Regions from separate parts of the Homo sapiens genome. Here region 1 is linked to region 2. The links come from fine-mapping of genetic effects on gene expression. A gene starts in region 2. The other region holds a variant in brackets. All regions are shown on one strand. Distances are between the middles of the regions. Region 1 overlaps LOC105369736 (a long non-coding RNA gene). Region 2 holds the start of LRRK2 (leucine rich repeat kinase 2).

Region 1 (5,387 bases), 150 kb after region 2:
CAAGTCAGTGTGACAATCAGAAGCAAAACCGTCCACCTTCTACTCACTGACAAGACCCAGAGAAGGCTCATAAGCAATTCCTCCTGGAGTTGCTCAAATTCACATCATGTATGTTATTTTTTTAAAAAAAATTACTGAAGCTTTTAATTAAATGAAAATTTTAGACAGAGAAGACCTCAAGCAAGGAAGTTTATCAGGGAAAAGAAGGGTGTTGTGTAATGATAGAAGTGTCTTTATACCCACGTAGACCAGTTGTTAGATGGGGGATGCCTGAAGAAGGCAGAGTGAGCTTGGGCATGGTCACATTTTCAGCAGAGGTATTTCTAGGAGAGGGCTGTAAGGTAAGTTGACAACCTTCCCAGTGGCTGGGGAAAATGAGTTCCTTCAGGTGTGGGTGGCACTGAACAGTATTTATGAAAGAAAACTCAATAAATAAATTAATAAATGCATGTGTAAATAATTGCCTTGGTGAAGGCATTTATTGATTCTAGTGAAATTGAGATGAGGTTTCAAAGGACTTAAGGTATATGTGGAATAGAAGACATAAAACGTGGAGATACTAATTACAGATTGACTCTTCAGTAAAAGCTGAAACCCAAAATAACTACAGTCGTGTGCTGCATAACGTGTTGGTCAATGATGGACTGCATATACAATGGTGGTACCATAAGATTATAATGAAGATGAAAAATTCCTGCCCCCTAGTGACATAGCATTGTAGCACAACGTGTAACTCACTTGCCTGTGGTGATGCTGGCATAAACAAACCTACTGTACTGCCAGTCGTATTAAAGTTTAGCACCTACAATTATGTGCATTACCTAAGACTTGATAATAAACGTGATATTACTGGTTTATATATTTACTACAGTATACTTTTAATCATTATTTTACAGTGTATTCTTTCTCTCTTTTTTTTGAGACAGGGTCTCATTCTGTCACCCAGGCTGGAGTGCAGTGGCGTGATCTCGGCTCACTGCAACCTCCACCTCCTGGGTTCAAGGGATTCTCCTGCCTCAGCCTCTTGAGTAACTGGATTTGCAAGCATGCACCACCATGTTCGACTAATTTTTGTATTTTTAGTAGAGATGGGGTTTCACCATGTTGGTTGGGCTGGCCTCAAACTCCTGACCTCAAGTGATCTGCCTGCCTCGACTCCCAAAATGCTGGGATTACAGACATGAGCCACCACACAGTGCCTGGCCTATTTTAGAGTGTACTTCATATATATATATATATATACACACACACACACACACACACATATAAATATATACACAGCTTCATTATAATCTTATGGGACCTCCATTGTATATGCAGTCCATCATTGACCAAAACATTATATATATATATATACACACACACACACATATATACACATATATATGTGTATATATATGTATATATATAGATATATAAAGTTAACTGTAAAACAGCCTCAGGCAGATCCTTCAGGAGTTGTCCCAGAAGGCAGTACTCTAGGCTATGGTTTGTGTTTGTGTTAGTTTTTAACCAAAAAGTTAAAAAAAAATTAAAATAGACAAAAGCTTATAGAATAAGAATCTAAGGAAAAATATTTTTACAGCTGTAAAATATGTTTCTGTTTTAAGCTAAGTGTTTTTACAAAAGAATCAAAAAGTTTTAAAATTAAAAAGTTTATAAAGAAAAAAGTTACGGTAAGCTAAGTTTAATTTATTATTTAAGGGGAAAAAAATAGGATGGGTGCAGTGGCTCACACTTCTAAGTCCAACACTTTGGGAGGCTTAGAAAAGAGGATTTCTTGAGTCCAGGAGTTCGTGACCAGCCTTGGCAACAAGGTGAAACCTCATCTCTACCGATAATGCAAGACATTAGCTGAGTGTGTTGGCACAGGCCTGTAGTCCCAGCTACTTGGGAGACTGAGGTGGGAGGACTGCTTATGGCCAGGAGGTGAAGGGCAAAGGTTGCAGTGAACTGTGATTGTGACTCCAGCCTGGATGACAGAGCAGGACTCTGTCTCCAAAAATAAAAATGGAAAGAAAAAAGAAAAAAAATTGTTTTAAAATACATTTAGTGTAACCTAAGTATACAATGTTTATAAGGCCTACAGTAGTGTACAATAATTTCCTAGGCCTTCACATTCACTCACCACTCACTCACCGACTCACCCAGAGCAACTTTCAGTTCTGCAAGCTCCATTTATGGTAAGTGCCCTATACTGGCGTACCATATTTAATCTTTGATATCATATTTTTACTGTACCTTTTCTATGTTTAGATATGCTTAGACACACAAATACCAGTGTGTTACAATTGCGTATAGTATTCAGTACAGTAACACGCTGTATTGATTTGCAGCTTAGGAGCAAAAGCTTATTCCATATAGCCTAAGTGTGTAGTAACTTATACCTTCTAGATTTGTGTAAGTACGCTCTATGATCTTTGCACAAAGATGGATTTGCCTAATGACACATTTCTCAGAAAGTGCCCTTGTTGTTAAGTGATGCATAACTGCTATTCTTAGAATGGTAGACCAGATTTCACCCATGCCACACTTTTACAGTCCCTCACTGCACAAAGTAAAATAGTCTTGGTGTTGAGCATAGCAAGGTGGTAAGAAAAGCATCTGAGTCATTGTAACTCTGAAGTCACAAGAGATTTACAGGTCAAATTTATATCACAGATGTTTCTAAAAACATTGAGAGGTTTATTATTGAAAGTAGTTCCATTAGTAGTTAGGTGCCTGGGATAAGAAAATCTAAATCTTCTCTAATGAAATATATATTTATCCTATTAATATTTCTCAAATAATATGCTTTCTAAAGACAATAAGCAGTGTACAATGTACAGTTCAAATAAATGAAGCTTAAGAGAAAAATGACGACGTGAAAGAGATGCTTCAGGATCAACTAAGAGCAGAAAAAAAACAGCTAAGAGTCCAAATACCAGAAGGTGAAACATAGGATCTGAAATAAAGACACATTTGAACATTTCTTCAGCGGGCAGGAAGCTATAAATATGATTAAGGGGATTTGAAAAAGAGTCAAGTAGAACTTCTAAAAAGAAAAAATATA[A/G]TATGTATAATTTAAAATATCATATATGGAGTTCATAGCATTTTAGATACAGATGAAGGAAAAATTAATTAACTGGAAGATAAGGCAAAAAGGATTTTCTAGAATGCAACATGGACAGAAACAGAGATGAACAATGTAAACCAAATAGTCAAGACTCTTCAAGGTGGAGTAATAATGTCTAACTTATGTCTGATTGGAATGCCAGAGAAGGGGAATATAGAGGAGAAATATGTTTGAAGAGATAATGACTAGGATATAACTAGAACTGATGAAAGATACCAATTTGCATACATACAAGAAACTGAGACTCCAAATAAAGATAAATTAGGACATCCCCACATTGACACACTAAAGTGAAAATGCAGAAAATAAAAAGAAAAGGCATGGATGACTCCCACAAAAAATGTTGGGTGAGAGAAACACAATGCAAAGAATTTATATAGTATGCTTCCATTCACATAAAATTAAAAATCAAAACTGAACTCGATTGTTTAAGGATGTATAAATATAAGTGGTAAAATTATAAGGTAAGTAAGAAAATGAAAAATAGAAACATTAAGAGAGTGGTTATTTCTATAAAGAAGGGAAAGAATTACAATTGAGAAGTAGGCAGGTAGAGGATTCTGAGATGCTGGAAAATGTTCTATTTCCTGACCTAGCTGGTGGGTAAATGGGTATTTCTTGTATAATAATTCCTTAAAATATAATTTTATGTTTTACATATTTATTTAGTACATTATGTCTCTAAATTTAAAGATGAAACAAACTAATTTACTTTCACTGAATGAACTAAAATTGTCCTGAAAACATTTGATAATACATTTCCCAAATGTCTGAGCTTCTCATCTCAGTTTTAGTTGTTGATTTTCTCCAGCCTGTCAACTAGAGCATATGGTTTAATAAATATAAATGATTCACAGATAATGAAAAAAGCCATTCATTTCCACTTAACATTGCTACATCATGCCTTTTCAGTTTTAACATCAAAATTAAGACTATACATTCAATAAAATTGTGAGATTTTAAGCTTAGATTGTTGGGTACAGAGATATACTGAGAAGTAAAGAAGAGCAGCAGGTCTGGTGCAGATAATTATTTAAAGTTTGACATATGTATTTAAACTTCTTATAAAACATACAGATGGAAATATTCAATAGATGGTTGTGAATACTGATCCAAAACTCAGAAGAGACTGGGGGGTCAGAAGCAGATTTGTAAGTCATCTGTTGAGAGGCCATCTGTATTTGTTTGCTAGGACTGCCAAAACCACAGACTGGATGGCTTAAACACTGAAATTTATTTTGGCTAGAAGTCTGAGATCAAGGTATTGGCAGTGTTGGCTCCTTCTGAGGGTTGTAAGGGAACTATTGTTCCAGGCCTCTCTCCTTGGCTTGTAGGTGGCTGTCTTCTTCCTGTGTCTTCACATCGTCTTCCCCCTGCACCTGTCTTTGTCCAGACTTTCTCTTCTTATAAGGCACCAATCTATTGGATTAGGGTTCACCCTAATGGCCTTACTTTAATTTAATTATTTCCTTAAAGATCCTATCCACAAACAGGGTTATATTCTGAGGTACTAGGGATTACGACTTCAACATAGGAATTTTTTCAATGTACAAGGAAATTTAGCCCATAACACTATCAATTAAAACCTGAGACAAGATGACCTGGCCAATGTGCAGAGCACATTGAGAAAAGAGAGCTCTGAAAAAAGCCATATTCAGAAGAGTTAGAAGAGGACAGAGGCTGAGAAGGAGATAGTTTAAAGAGATAATCAGTGAAGTAAAAAATGGCAGAACATTCAATGAGGATCTATCTGGACTTAGTAAAGCAAATGAACTTGATGAAGCTATACGTGGTGACCACTGATAGAACAGAGTTTACAGAGTGGGAAGGAGTGGAAGGCTGAATGAAGTGCATAAAGGAGTACATCTAAAAAGGCACAATGAGAATGGAAAGACAGTAATGAATGTTAAGAAGTAGAAGAGGAGATGTAGAAAGAAGGAGCTGATATAATAACTGTGTGGGTGATTGTGCAGGACAAATGATAGAGTGACCATTAAAATATGGCTTATGATTGAGCACAAGAAATCATTTCAATGATACAAATGCAGACAGAAGACGCAGGTATAGAACTTTTGTCAGGAATACAGCTTACTATAGAGACCTATTTACCAGGGGAAGGCCAGTGTTCAAATTCCTCTTAAAATGTTATTAAGGGGAGTTCATATGACAACTGCAAGTATCAATACCACCATAATATTCTATTCAGAACACTGACAAAATTTCTCATGTATGCTTTTTTAAAATCACTATCCGAAAGTCCATTCCAACATTG
Region 2 (5,387 bases):
TGAACCCTGCTTCCATCATAAATTCATGCCTTAATCTTCATTTTCAGTCTTGTTAACTACTTGAAGAGTTGATAAATCTTGGAATTTCAGTCAATCAATTAAACATTTTTGAAAACTAAGAGAATACTTTACCTTAACACTGCAGTAGTTCATGGGAGAATGCTCCCAACAAATAATTCATATTTTCACACTGTCTACTCACAGTCTGGCCAATATAGAGTAGATAATAAATAGGCAATAGATGGATGAATGAATTGTGGAAATTAGGAGACATCTTTTAATTTAGATTTATTTTTCTTTGGAAGGGAGGTAGGTTTTAATTTCTTGCAAGGTTGTAATTCAGTAGAACAGGAAGGGAGAAACTAATGCAGAGGAACAGAAGGAATGCATGAGATGGAGAATGCCTAGAAATGTTTGAGACATTGATTAAGTCATCAGAAATGGAAACAAGTTTAGAAACAACTTAGAAAATAATACACTGTAGGTCTGATAAATATTGTAAGATTGGGAGTTTTTTGTTAAATTATGGAAAATTTTATATAGATACAATAGTAGAACAGACCACATGAACCCATCTCATATTATCTTCAACAATTATCAATTCAAAAGTTGTTATCGTTATCTCTATCTCCACACATTTCATCTTTTCCTCCACCACTGGATGACTTTGAAAGAAATCCTAACCATTTCAACTATAAATATTTTAGCATGTCTCTGTAAAAGTTAAAGACTCTATAACAACAAGACATAGACCCAATATCCAGGTTGAGTAGGAGTTTGCTATCTTACTAATCTAATGTATTAACAAAGTCTAGAGCATTCTTATTAAAGTGGTAGAGCATGAAGAACCTTCTACCTGGAGTTAGGAGATTTGCTGGGTTGAAGTCCTGGCTCTCAACTTCCCACCTGTGTGACTCCAGCAAAGCTCTTCACTTCTCAATTCCAAATCTCAATTTCCTCACTAGTGAAAGAAGGATACATAGTAGTAGTTGTATCCATTTCAGAATTGTCATCAGGATTGAAGTAACAGATGTGAAAACAAAACTAAAATTGTGAAGTAGTAACTTCCAGTCCAATCCTCTTCTTTGTAAGTGATCTTGAGGACAGACACATCACCTGAAGGATAGATCATCTTTGCCTAGCCTTGTCTACAATGTTCTTGCTAGGTTTCTTTTCCTAAAAACACATTACTTAGGTACTTAACAGAACAAACAAACAAACAATCAAAAGACAAAACCAAAAAACTTTGGGGTTATAGACACCCATACTCATAAGTATTTCTGAATACCAAGAGAAGAGTATTTAGGTTTGCTTCTCTCAACTTTTCACCTTTCATTTCATGTACCCTGTCCTTTGTCTCAGCTCTAATAGCTCTGAGAGCTGATTACTTTTCGGGTGTCCCAAGTATCAGGATCCTGCCTAGTGCAACTCAAATTTCCAAAAGTTAATTTAGTGGCCTTTTGGTGACCAGAGCTTCAGATAACTCACAGGGAAACAATGTTTATTTCCTCTCCCACTAACAGTCACAAAAAATCATAAAAAAGAGTAGCGGGGGCAGTTTTGATGGCTAACCCCTCTTTCCATCCTTTGGGGGAAAATTGCTCATCTCCCTATAGGTGGAACTCTAAAGACAATGTATTCCTAAAAGGGGCCATCTGGGCGGTGTCCTCTTTTCCCAGCGCCCTGATTTCTATTCTTAGATCTGGAGATAGGCGGCTTTCATTTTTCCTGCTCCCAGTTCCCAGACCTTCCGTGGGGCCGCAGGATCCCCGGCTGGCGGGTCGCGGAGGGTGGCCGGCCGGGCTGCGCACTGCGCGCCTCCGCTGCGGGGCTCCGGGCCTGTGGACTCAGCGGAGTCCGCTGAGTCAGTTTCTTCCCGCGCGACTCCCGGCCGCGCCGCCGCTGCGGTGGAATCTGGTCCCAGGAGGCGGCGTCCGCCCGGGGTCCGGTCTAGGCGTGCGTGGGGGCCACGGTCACGGTCATCCCAGCCAGGCCCGGCTCCAGCAGCCCCACGGCCGCCGCCAGAGTTCTGCGCGGCCCGTCGCCTCGGCGGAGCCTCTGGCAGGCCCCTGAGCTCGTTTTTGGGGCCTGAGTGGGGGAGGAGGAAGCCGAGCAGGAGGGCTCCGGAGAGGGAGGGCAACGCGGGGCGGGGAGCTGCCTCCTTCCTCATAAACAGGCGGGCGTGGGCGCCGATGGGGCCCGCGGGGAGCGCTGGCTGCGGGCGGTGAGCTGAGCTCGCCCCCGGGGAGCTGTGGCCGGCGCCCCTGCCGGTTCCCTGAGCAGCGGACGTTCATGCTGGGAGGGCGGCGGGTTGGAAGCAGGTGCCACCATGGCTAGTGGCAGCTGTCAGGGGTGCGAAGAGGACGAGGAAACTCTGAAGAAGTTGATAGTCAGGCTGAACAATGTCCAGGAAGGAAAACAGATAGAAACGCTGGTCCAAATCCTGGAGGATCTGCTGGTGTTCACGTACTCCGAGCGCGGTAATCACTTGAAAATAAACTGTGCTTTTATTTTTGCAAACTTTCTCCCCCTCCTTACATTTGCAAATTTTGTCCTCCTCCCCTTGACCCTGCTCAAACCCGGACTCTTAAGGAGCCGCAAACTCCCATATCCTTTCCTTAGGGCAGAAAGCAGCTGAGAATTTCAGGAAGGTCTTCACCTTTTTGACTTTTCTCCCCGTTTCAGACTAAAAAGGAGAGGGGGTGCTGTGGATTGTGACTTTGCTTCTTTTCCCCACCCACTTGTTTTCCAGCCTCCAAGTTATTTCAAGGCAAAAATATCCATGTGCCTCTGTTGATCGTCTTGGACTCCTATATGAGAGTCGCGAGTGTGCAGCAGGTAAAGGCATTGTTTTCACTTCAACTCATTCTCCCTTCTGTTTGGAAGGAGACGTTTTACTGGCAATGTTAATATAGCCGAGAGTTCTTGGTTATTCCCAAAATTTGGCTTGAGGAACCTCTGACTGTGATTTTAAGATGGGAATATTGTTAAATCATTACGCAATGTAAACGGGATGAAGAGCCCCAGTATGTGTTCCCTGAGTGTCTTTAAGAAGTAACTTTATAAAACCAACAGTATGGATGGTGGTAGAAGGAGGATAAAAATGGGTTCGGTTTTAGTCTCGTTATTGGCAAGATGAATTCATTAGTGTTTAGACTTGACTATTCCAAGTATCTTCCCAATACAGAGCATGTCCTAGATGAGAAGATTATGAATAGTTTGGAAAAGGGGAATAATTAATAGTGATAAAATGCAACTTTGTCACTAGCAAACTCTTGTAGAGTTCAGCACTTTTTAAAATTCAAAGATTTCTAGCCTTTAGTTGTAGTATACCTTGTAGTATCTAAAGAAAGTGATGTCTTATGAGACCCTCATAGTTTGCAACTGTTGTCATATAAAATGCATGTAGAAGTGAAACTTTTACAATCTGTACCATAGGAAACCCAGAAATTTGCTATGTATCTTGGATTTTTTTTTAAAGGGGGCCTTAAAAATGGTAATTAAGAATGATTTACAGTCAAAACAAAATTATAGGCCAAGGTGATAACTTCCTTCGGAGCACTTAGAGATTTGGGGAACTGAAATCAGTTTTGTCATCTGCATGTTAACTCATGCAGAGAAAGAGAATTGGACTTTGAACTCCTTGGAGGTGCAGTCAGAAAGCCAATGTTTCTTAATGGTTGAGAGGCTTGACAGACATGAGGCATCTCAATCTTTAAAGTGGTGTGGGTCTATCTTTATCTTGATGTTTATCTCTGTATCTAGCTGTATCTAGTCTGGGTGAACCATCTAGCTTCTTTGATATGAGGACATTTACATCTGGAAGAAATATTTTAATTTGTTTTCAACTGTGAAATATTTTCCATCTGACTATTATAGATTTTCACGCTGCTATCAAACCAAACCAAGAAAAGATGGAGGCATAATAAAGATGCTGTTCTTTTAAGACTCAAAGTCGGAATTTTGCCTGTGGAATATGAGTCACTTTTTGGGCACTGGCCTATTGTGCTTCCTGCTCTGCACCCACGTCATCCCTTCTTACTTGTCTCTGCTTTGGTGTTCAGAAGTGCCTGATTCTGGCCACCTTCATTCCCTAGACTCTGTACTTGATAGAGTCACTCCTGCTTGATACTGCTCAGGACAGTCAGATCCTGGGTAGGCGTTTTGGTCTGCAGGGTCTAGATAAGGCAGTGCTATACTTGACAACCCAGGGGAGCCTGGAACATACTTCCTAATTCTTAATTTTAGAAATTGCCCAAGCCTGAGCATACTTGTCCGGAGTAGTTATGAGTGTCACTTAGTATTTCTGCCTAGAGAGTACCAGAGGCAAAGTATGCTGGAAAATAAGGAAGAGTTTTTTTAAAAGTAATTAATTACTTTTTTGGATATATCATAGTTGTATATATTTTGGGGATACATATGCTATTTGATACATGTATACAATGTGTAATGTTCAAATCAGGGTAACTGGAATATCCGTCACCTCGAACATTTTTCTTTGTGTTGGCAACGTTGCAATTTCTTTCTTCTAGCTATTTTAAAATATGCAATGAATTATTAACCATAATTTCCCTGCTATACTATTAAATATTAACTTAATTGCTTGTATCTAATTATATTTTTGTACACATTAACCACCTTCTCTTTATCCCTCCCCATCCTTTCATTTCCAGTCTCTGGTAACCACCATTCTACTCTCTTCCTCCATGAGATCCACCTTTTCCGCTCCTACATATGAGTGAGATTATGCAATATTTTATTTCTGTACCTGGCTTATTTAATTTAACCTAATGACCTCCAGTCCCACCCATGCTGTTGCAAATGACAGGATTTCATTTTTTATGACTGAATAATATTCCATTGTGTATGTATACCACATTTTCTTTTATTTTTAGTTAAGTAATTAATTTAGAGACAGGGTCTCACTCTGTTGCCCAGACTGGAGAGCAGTGGTGTGATCAAAGCTCACTGCAGGCCTGCAATCCTGGGCTGAAGTAGTCCTCCTGCCTCAGCCTCCCAGGTAGCTAGGACTATAAGCATGTGCCACCATGCTCAGCTAATTTTTTTTTCTTTTTTTACTTTTTGTAGAGATGGAGTCTTGCTATGTTGCCCAGGTTAGTTTCAAACTCCTGACCTCAAGTAATCCTCCTGCCTCGGCCTCCATATTTTCTTTGTTAATCTGTTGATAGACATATAAGGTGATTCTGTATTTTAACTATTGTGAACAGGGCTGCAATAAACATGGGAGTTCAGATATATCTTTGATATACTGATGTTCTTTTTTTGGATATATACCCAGCGATGAGATTACTGGATCATATGAAAATTCTCTTTTTAGTTTTTTAAGATACCTCCATACTGTGTTTCATCATGGCTGTGCTACTTTA

The links. PIP is the estimated chance that this variant, and not a neighbour inherited with it, causes the effect. A credible set is the group of variants that fine-mapping cannot tell apart.
Region 1: its variant is the best candidate, but not a certain one, in a credible set for the expression of LRRK2 in gastroesophageal junction (GTEx, PIP 0.82).

What each region holds. Positions count from the first base shown.
Region 1 is chr12:40,374,577-40,379,963 of GRCh38, forward strand. The region is part of intron 5 of LOC105369736 (a long non-coding RNA gene); the gene reads right to left. Among named protein-coding and RNA genes, the nearest start is that of MUC19, 16 kb to the right of the region's middle. The variant A/G (reference allele first, on the strand shown) is at 3,053.
Region 2 is chr12:40,222,803-40,228,189 of GRCh38, forward strand. It overlaps LRRK2 (leucine rich repeat kinase 2), which reads left to right and starts at 2,195. Exons shown (of 51, transcript NM_198578.4): 1 at 2,195-2,480; 2 at 2,753-2,838. The coding sequence starts at 2,330. LRRK2-DT (LRRK2 divergent transcript) reads right to left here and starts at 1,020. Exons shown (of 9, transcript NR_186757.1): 1 at 857-1,020. It overlaps LINC01779 (long intergenic non-protein coding RNA 1779), which reads right to left and starts at 2,101. Exons shown (of 1, transcript NR_186584.1): 1 at 274-2,101. RefSeq lists a silencer at 1,961-2,320 and an enhancer at 3,519-3,608.